Regions from separate parts of the Homo sapiens genome. Here region 1 is linked to region 2. Evidence: fine-mapped expression QTL. A gene starts in region 2. The other region holds a variant in brackets. All regions are shown on one strand. Distances are between the middles of the regions. Region 1 overlaps GABRG3 (gamma-aminobutyric acid type A receptor subunit gamma3). Region 2 holds the start of GABRG3-AS1 (GABRG3 antisense RNA 1).

Region 1 (5,000 bases), 110 kb before region 2:
CCGGCCACAGATCGGGCGTTGGGGCCCCCTGATCTAAGAGGAAGAATGCCATGTCTGGTAGAAGGATGGTGTGTTCTCTGTCCCACCCCCATGAAATTTCTGGTGGGGACTGGTCTGTCTTTGTCTCTTGAGAGTGCTGAGTTACGTTGATCACAACACCTCTGATCACCTTGGGGGGGTGCTGTCACTCCCGTGCCGCAAATGGTGACCAGATCAGAGAAAGGACTCAGCCCTCAGGTGGTGGCACCATAGCCAGTGGCCAGTGGGGCCTCGGCGTGTGGCACAGGTGGTAGAAAAACTTGGCATTCTGTGGGCCAATGTGGAGTGTTAGGCCTGGAGAATCACAGAAAATCTAAGCATAAGGCCCTTCATTCCTCCTGTAACTCCTTGACAAAAGAAGTGCCACAGTGCCTGTGAGGGTGCATGATGGCAGGCCACTTCCCTCCTGCTGCTTCTAAAACACACGAAATCTAGTATCAAGACAAACAAAAATAAATGAGCAAGAAGATTCAGCAAATGGATCAGCAGATGATTAAAATACCTAATGTAGAGCTATGCTCATAGTTTAAAAAGTCTAGATACAGTGGACAATTTGGGGGAAAGATTAACCTGGATCAAAAGAAGAGGGAAACACAATTTCATACTATACTGCAAGACTACATTAACCAAAATAGCATGGTACTGGCACAAAAACAGACATACGGACAAGTGGAATAGAGTAGATAACCCAGAAATAAAGCAACACACATGCAACCAGATGATCTTTGATAAAATTGATAAAAATAAGCAATAGGGAAAGGACTCTCTGTTCAGTAAATAGTGCTGGGAAAACAGGCTAGCCACATGCGGAAGAATGAAACTGGACCCTACATATCACCATATACAAAAATTAACTCAAGGCGGATTAAAGGCTTAAATGTAAGACATCAAAATAACAAAATCCTAGAAGAAAACCTAGGAAATACCCTTCTGGATATTGGCCTTGGCAAAGAATTTATGGCTAAGTCCTCAAAAGCAATTGCAACAAAAACAAAAATTGACAGTGGGACCAAATAACTAAAGAACTTCTGTACAGCAACAGAAACTATCAACAACCCACAGAATGGGAGAAAATATTCACTATGCTTCTAATAGAGGCCTAATGTCCAGAATCTATAACTAACTTAAATCAACAAACAAAAACAAATAACCCCACTAGAAAGTGAGTAAAGGACATGGACAGATACTTCTCAAAAGAAGACATACAAGTGACCAACAAATGAAAAAATCCTCAACATCACTAACCGTCAGAGAATTGCAAATCAAAACCACAGTGAGACACCATCTCACGCCAGTCAGAATAGTTATTACTAAAAAGTTAAAAGCCAGCAGGGTTGGAGAGGCTGCAGAGAAAATGGAACACTTATACACTGTTGGTGAGAAGGTAAATTGGTTCAGCCATTGTGGAGAGCATTTTGGAGATTTCTCAAAGAAGTAAAAACAGAACTAGCAATCCCATTACCTAGTATATACCCAGTGGAAAATAAATCATTCTACCAAAACGACATATGCACTTGTATGTTCACTGCACCACTATTCACAATAGCAAAGACATGGAATGAACCAAAGTGCCCATAAATGGTGACAGAAAAAAGAAAATGTGTAAATATACACCGTGAAATACCGCGCAGCCATTAAGAAAGAATGAAGGCATATCCTTTGCAGCTACATGGATGGGAAGGTGGAGGCCGTGATCCTAAGTGAATTAATGCAGAAACAAAAATGAAATACTGCATGTCATCACTTATAAGTGGAAGCTAAATTTTGGATACACATGGACATAAAGATGGGAATAGACACTGGGGACTTCAAAAGGAGGGAGGGGCCGGGTGTGGCGGCTCACGCCTCTAATCCCTGCACTTTGACTAAGGCAGGTGGATCACCTGAGGTCAGGAGTTCGAGACCAGCCTGGCTAACCTGGTGAAACCCCATCTCTACTAAAAAAAATAGCACGCACCTGTAATCCCAGCTACTCAGGAGGCTGAGGTGGGAGAATCCCTTGAGCCCGGGAGGCGGAGGTTGCAGTGAGCCGAGATCGCACCACTATACTCCAGCCTGGGCGAAAGAGCCAAACTCTATCTCAAAAAGAAAAAAAAAAAGAAAAAAGGAGGGAGGGTGTGAGGGGGCCAAGGACTGAAAAACTGCCTGTTGGGTTCTGTGCTCACTACCTGGGAGATGGGACCGATCAAAGCCCAAACCTCAGCATCACGAAACATATCCAGGGAACAAACCTGCACGTGTACCCCCTGAATCTAAAATAAAAATAGAAATAAACAAGGAAGAAGGAAATAAGCAACACTGGAAAAAACTGTAAAAGTTATCAAAGAATTTCCTCCAAAACAGGTTCCAGAGCCAAAGTCACGTTTTTCAGAAGCAACATTCCCAAGGCTGTAAGACTTGACTGAGTGTTACAAGAAAGGC[G/A]GAAATGCATCCGTTTATTTTGTGGTGCCGCCCTGACTCCCATACAGAAAACTGGCCAGGACAACGCAGAGCTGCAGATCCGTCAGATGGAATGGATACAGATCAGTCTTGATGCCAGGGACGGTGCTTCAAAAGCAGCTATTACTCTGAAAGGACACTCAGCAGATCCGGGGGCTTCAGGTTGTGAGATGAGCTCTGTATCGAGCGGGGAGGAACAGCTGCTGTGCACCACACTGAAGCCCTGAGACCAGCGGGGAACTACCTGTCTTTATTAAGATCGACTACAAAAGTCTAAGTTACTGTCCTCGTTTTGAGGGGGACTCTGAGTGGACCCTTGGTGGAATGGTTGTCAGCCACAAAGCAAGAGCGTCAAACCTGAGAGTGAAACTGGGCAAAGTTTGTAAGTTACAGCCCAAGGGCCAAGACCTGTTTTTTTTTTTTTTTTTTTTTAAATGACTTGTCAGCTAATAATAGTCTTTACATTCTTAAAGGATTGTGAAAAACAGCAGCAGCAGCAACAACAACTAGCCCCCCAAACAAAAGAAGGCTGTGTAATAGAGACTCCGTGTCCCACACCAGAGCAGCCTGTGATAGAGGCTCCGCGTCCCGCACCGGAGCAGCCTGTGATAGAGACTCTGTGTCCCGCACCGGAGCAGCTTGCTAGCACGTCCCGGGCTTTCACCCCGTAACATCTTAAGAAGGATGGAAAGACCAATCAGTACAAAAAAATAACCTGAACTTGTTACATCTGTAACTCGGGGAAATTAGTTCTAAAGCTATCATTATTTGCTAATGTTATAAGTATTTATTTAGGAAGTCAAAAGGAGATAATGGAAGACTTAGATACAGGCGGAGCATCCCAAATCTGAAAATCGGAAATCCAGAAGGCTCCAAAATCCAAAGCTTTGTGAGCACTGACCTAATGCGACAAATAGAAAATCCCACACCTGACCTCACATGGCAGGTCACAGTCAAACGCTGGCGCAGAACACACGGTGTTTTCAGCGTTCCCATAGGAATAATAAAATTACCTTCAGGCTACATGCATAAGGTGTGTATGAAACATAAATGAATTCCTGTTTATACTTGGTTTCCATTATTAAGATATTTCATTATCTGTATGGAAATATTTTCAAATATGAAATAATCTGAGATCTGAAACACTTCTGGTCCCATGCATTTCAGATAAGGGATACCCAACCAGTAATGATGGAGATTATCAAAGGTTTGAGAACAAAGCAAAAGCATTCTCAAAAGTCATTGAGAAAAAAAAATCATCCCAGAAATACTAGGGAAATATATGGTTTTTAATTTTTAAAGAGTTTTATATTATTTTAATTGGCAAATAATAAATGCACATATTGATGAGGTACAATGTGACACTTTGATACATGTATACATTCTGCAGTGATCAACTCAAGGTAATATTTTTTAAAAATTTGCAGGAGGAGAAAAATCACAAATAGTCACAAACAGAAAATAAATGTACAGGCTGGGTGCAGTGGCTCAAGCCTGTAATCCTAGCACTTTGGGAGGCTGAGGTGGTGGGTTACTTGAGTCCAGGAGTTCGAGATCAGCCTGGGCAACATGGAGAAAACCCATGTCTACAAAAAATGCAAAATAATGAGCCAGGTGTGGTGGTACACACCTGTAGTCCCAGCTACTTGGGAGGCTGAGGTGGGAGGATCACTTGAGCCTGGGGGGAACTGAGGCCGCAGTGAGCTGTGATTGTGCCACTGCACTCCAGCCTGGTTGACAGAGTGAGACCCTGTCTCCAAAAAAAAAAAAAAAAAAAAGAAAAGAAAAAAGAAAATAAACATACATATTGAGATATTGAACCCGTTGTTTGAGTCAGGCATGGTTTTAGGTCCTGAAATGAAAATTAACACCAGACAACCAGCCTGAGAATTTGCAAGAATGTTCTAAAAGTGATCATGCAGTGCTGGAAAAAGCTGTGGAAAGAAAGTGAGAAGTGTTGTCCAGTGTTGGTGGGAGAATGAAACTGGGGTGTGTGGAGAGCGTTTGTGAGAAGCCTCCGCCGGAAGGAGCTCAGATCCTGCTGTTGGTGCTCCAAGCTCAGACTGAATGGGAAGTTCACAAGACCCCCCACGGTGGCTTCCACTGCAAACAGAAAACCAGTGGACGTGAGGATGGGAGAGGTGGTGGATGAGCGTTTTCATTAAAGTTGTTGATTTATTCTGCAATAAATGGAACTCGTTTGTAGGGTAGCTTTTTAAGAATGGCTCCAGCACACTATTCTGGATTCTTCACTGATTTCTCTTGAGACCCAAGACTGTGATCGGGAAAAAGCACCTTCTCATCATCTAGTTCCTCTGTGTGCAGTGTGTGCTTGGGTCCTCCTTAATGAAAAATATTGTCCCTGTCTCCTATCTCCTCTTGTTCAGACTCTATACTCTTCCCTGCTTATTATCAAGGGAAGGATTCAGAGACAGGGTGTGGAGTAAACATTGCTCTCATGTCCATTGTCCAGGTGGAGAAATAAACCTTCCAACAGTGGCCAGAACCCCTAACCCCAGCCC
Region 2 (5,000 bases):
CCAAGGGTTAGAATAAACTGCTATGTAGCTAAGTTAAAAATTTAATAACAAATAAATGGCATTATTGTCAAATATTAAAAAAGGAAAAATAAAACCTTCACTATTTCCATGATAAACCATGTCATGTGGGGAATACCTCCTTATTAGGTGAACACATCTTACAGCTGAAATTTTTCGTATGGCAAATTACCACCTGAATATTTATTTAGAGAATGGTCTCTCATTTCACTCTAGTTTGAAAGATGTTGTCTTTAAAGCCATCATATTCCTCACCCACACACACTGCCCACCTGTTTCCACCAAAGTGCTGTACTTCATCAGCCACAGGCCATTGTAGTCAGGAAGTCATGTACAGTGTTCTCTCCAAACCGCTCACTTTGCTTATGGCACCTACAAAGGACTTTATTTTTTATTTTCTCCTCCCTCTTCCTCCACGCCCTCCTCCTCCATGTTCTGCTATAAAACTTATATTTATCTAAGCAATTTAATTTTTATGGTTAAAAGAATAAGATAATACTAAAAGACTCAAAAAGAAAAATACAGGCCGGGCATGGTGGTTCACGCCTATAATCCCAGCACTTTGGAAGTACGAGGCAGGTGAATCACTTGAGCTCAGGAGTTCAAGACCAATCTGACCAACATGGCAAAACCCCATCTCTACTAAAATTACAAAATTTGGCCAAGTGTGCTGGTGCGCACCTGTAATCCCAGCTACTGGGGAGACTGAGGCATGAGAATCGCTTGAACCTGGGAGGTGGAGATTGCAGTGATCCGAGATTGCGCCACTGCACTTCAGCCTGGGCAATAGAGTGAGACTCCATCTTAAAAAAAAAAAAGTGCAGCTCCCTCCATCCTGCCTGAACCTGGGTTCATTTTCCATTCTTTAAGGGATTTCTTCTCTTATTTTCCATCATGTTCCTAGTAATATCCTTATATGAACATTTGATTATTCGTTCTCAGCTACATTGATGCCTCCTGGAAACGCTAGACTTTCCCTGTCTTACACTCTACCCATTTTCCCCTTTTGTTCCCCCGCTCACCTTCCAAAACAATCATGAACCAAGATTTGGTCAGATACACATTCCCTGCTTACAATGTTACAGTCATGTAATTACTGAACTTTGCAGAATGTCCTAGTGTGACCTGCTTACCTTATGGGGAGGAGGTCGCATAGATTATGTTTGTCCAGAAGGCGATTAAGTCCCTTTAAAAGAAAATAATGTCTGACATCCAAGCACTGTAGTGTTTTGTTGGCAGCTGTGATGGAAGCACACAGCCCTCTCCATGGGTTGGAAGGCTTTAGCCAACCTCCATGGCCACAGACTCAGATTACCCTCCCTCCCATTCCCACAGGGCTGCCTGCCACAGTGGCCCACCTGAACCCCTCACTGTCATACTGCAAGACCCTCCTGCTCTTTCCTGGGTGGACTCCCTGGTTCCCCACCAGATCTTCCCAGTCTTGGTCATTCTGCTTCCTTACTTTGGTGGAGAATATTCTCCAGGAATCTTCTGAGGAATGTTGCATGGAAGGTAACTTTGTGAATGGGTAGAAAATAATTTCCCCTGAGAGTTGTGCAAACATAGATCCACTGCTTGTGGGTGAGTTCTGGGCCATCTTTCCTTAGGTCAGTCTGATTGTGAGCTGCTTCTTGCCCCAACCCCCTTTATCCTCAGCCACAACCAGAAAGGTCTTCCCCCTTTTATTCTGGAATTTCAAATGGTAGTATTTCTGATTTTCTTTTCATATGCCATGGACTAGGCAAGTCTTAACTATATGTAAAGTCATTTGATTATTGAGATTGTTTGGTATTATTTCTTTGATAATTCTTTTATTACTTTTCTCTTTTATAAGACTTCTCTGTTTGGTTTTATGCTAGTTTTTGGGAAATCCCTTCAAATTTACCTTCCAACTACTGATTTTTTTTTAATTTCTGAAGGATCTTTCTAATACTTAGGATGTTTCTTTTTTACAGCATCCTCCTGTTATTTCAATGAACCAGTAACTTTTTTTTTTTCTTTTGGAGGATCTTAACCATAGTTTCTGGAAGTTTTCTTCTGGTCTCACATTGCTTCTGTTTGTTTTGGAGTACATCATTCATGATAGAGCATTTCCCTACTGGCCTCTCATGAATAAGTAGATATGAAGCACTCCTGGCTGGTTGGAAGTTCTCTATGGGCCTCATATTAGGATGAAAACTGGGAATTTCAGAGAAGTACTGCTTGTTAGTATTTCCAGGTCTTTTTACTTTGGCTTGTTAATTTCCTCAGATGGAAGATTTTTTTTTTTCTATTGTTGCCTGGGAAGTTGCAAACCTACAGACAAAATGCTGGGAGCCTGTCAAGGAAAGGGGCTGGTGCACCCACCTGTTGTCTCTGTATGTCACTGAATCCAGGGTTTCTCTGAGTCAGCCTCCAATCAACAGCTCTGTGGCTCGGGAATCTTGAGTTCTCTTTCTTCTGTTTTGGACCCATCGTATGTTACTACTTAGAGATACGTGGAACCTCCAACTCCTGTGGTCCTTCAGAGTTTCCCCTGTCAAAACCTATGATGGTCTGAGATGTTACCTTACTTGAAAGCTAGTAAGTTGGCCTGCCATAGTGTCATGGTTTCTGGAAGAAGACAAGAGATGCCTGGGTCAGAGACAAAGGACATTGTTACACTGTAGGCATTGATGTCACAGCAGGCATTGTGAGCTTCATGTTTGCCTCTGTTCTCCTTGCCCCCCAAGTTCCATGGGGGCAGTGTGAAACAGCCAACCAGTTTGTGCCACAGCAGAGGAACCCTGAACTTAGGAAACCTCCATCTTTTACAATGTCTGCATACGTTTTTAATGATGCTTTTTGATGAAGAAAAGCTCTTAAAGAAGTTAAATTTGCTTGCCAATGTTTTTTCTTTTATGTTTAGTGTTTTTGATGTCCTATTTACAAGTTATTTGCTTATTTAAAAGTCATATACATTTGTATTTGCTTTTTTCTTAAAATTTGAATACTTTAGCATTTTGAATATATTAGCATTCACATTTTGGTCTGTAATTCACCTCAAATTAATTTTTACTTGTGGTATGAGGTAGGAGTTCAAGGTTCATGTTTTTCTCTTCATACTGATATCTAGTTGCTACAGGAACACGTATTAGAAAAATTAGTTTAAAGCATGTGCAGAATCTTAAAGACCAGGAAGGTGATACTGTAGTTAATACATCACAGCTTCTATAAACTAAAGGATGTGAAACCTAATGCAGCTGCCATTATTGTGTGCTACCAAATGACAGGCTCTTCAAAGGAAACAAAGATAAAAGATATCCTCCCTGTCTTTAAGGAACTTAAAAATATATGCATAGAAATAAACTTACACATACACTATAATTTTATTTATAAAAGTGAAGGGAAAATTTATGCAATAAAACTGATAATGATTCTCTAAGACTGTTTACAGCTTACTAGTACTGAAGTTGTCCCATCTGACCCAAAATATCTGGGGATGCTTAGGAAAAAATTAAGGATATAGGAAGAATTGTATATTATGACATATTGAGGAATTTCCTGGGAGAGAGCCCAACCCAAGGACGGTGAACTTGATTCATTAGCAAAGCTTTGGTCCACAGAGTTAGGGATCACGCTGAGTGTAGCATTTGGTACTCTGTTCACTCCTTGGGTACCTGAGAAGGAGGTGGTAAGGGGAAAGCTAAAACTGTTTCACTGAAATCATGGTAAGGTATTGACATGGTAAAGCAGCCATACTTTTGGCCTTCTTAGATATGGGTCTGTACAAAAGGATAAAGTGAATATCTCCTCCCTGTGCCACTGGCCACTGTGCAGCTTTGGTCCTCTTGGGCTAGATGGAATGGTAGTGGCACTTTTTTGACTTGGTAGGTAGGGGCCAGATCGGGTGCAGTACCTGGCAGTAATGGATATCAATGGTATCCAATGGAGAAACACGCCAAATGGAAAAGGGAGTACCTAGGGTTTGCTAGAATTGGAATAGGGAAAGAAAATGGGCATCACAGGATGACTGGCCAGAGACTGGACTGGGCCTGCTCCTTAGCATGTGTGAAGCATCTTCTGATGCCCCTAGATATAGCTGATGAGCTGAAGAAACATTGGCAGGAGGTATGAGGGTTCTGCATTCACAGTTGGGATAAGGGACCAGCAGAAAATTAGCTTGCACACATAAGGGTAAGGCAACATCATTGTTTTCAGAATTCAAAACATTGAAATCCTCTTACTTATTTGATCTTAGTAGCAACCCAAGGGACTGCAGCTGTTTTTCTAAAATGAAGAGCTCCACGTGATCACGTGGAGGTTACGAGATTCACCTACAATCTTAGTAGGTGACCCAGCTCTGGAGCCTGGGCTGGTGGCCATCACTTTCACTCTACCTCTTCTTGCCCTCGCCAGTCTCAGTGTCCCATGTGGCTGCTCCCTACATTACCTCTCAGCTCCCCCGACCCACCTGCCTACCAAGCCTGGTCCCAGATGAACTCTGCTGAAATACACCTCTCACCATGTCTCATCTCTACTCAGTATCCTCAGAGACTCCTACTGCCCTCTAAATTAAATCTAGGCTGGGCACCGTGGCTCATGCCTGTAGTTCCAACACTTTGGAAAACCAAGGAGGGAGGATTTCTTGAGGGCAGGACTTGTGTTCAGCCTGGGCAACTTAGCCTCAGCCTCCCAAGTAGCTAGGACTGCAGGCACATGTCACTATGCCCAGCTAATTTTCCTATTTTTTTGTATAGATAGGGTCTTGCTCTGTTGCCCTGGCTCCAGAGTGGGGTCACCTACTAAGATTGTAGGCAAATCTCATAACCTCCATGTGATCACATGGAGCATTTCATTTTAGAAAAACAGCTGCAATCTCTTGGGCTGTTACTAGGATCAAATAGGTAATAGGCCGAGACCAGAAGATTGGTTGAACCCAGGAATTTGAGGTTACAGTGAGCCTACGATTGTGCCACTGCACTCCAGTGAGACCCTGTCTCATAAATACATAAGTCAGTGCT

The links.
Region 1: its variant is fine-mapped to the expression of GABRG3-AS1 in spleen (GTEx, PIP above 0.99).

Annotation. Positions count from the first base shown.
Region 1 is chr15:27,052,118-27,057,117 of GRCh38, forward strand. The region is part of intron 3 of GABRG3 (gamma-aminobutyric acid type A receptor subunit gamma3); the gene reads left to right. The region is part of intron 2 of LOC124903449 (a long non-coding RNA gene); the gene reads right to left. Among named protein-coding and RNA genes, the nearest start is that of GABRG3, 83 kb to the left of the region's middle. RefSeq lists an enhancer at 197-696. The variant G/A (reference allele first, on the strand shown) is at 2,461.
Region 2 is chr15:27,158,658-27,163,657 of GRCh38, forward strand. It overlaps GABRG3-AS1 (GABRG3 antisense RNA 1), which reads right to left and starts at 2,662. Exons shown (of 3, transcript NR_120343.1): 1 at 2,365-2,662. All of the region lies in intron 3 of GABRG3 (gamma-aminobutyric acid type A receptor subunit gamma3), which reads left to right.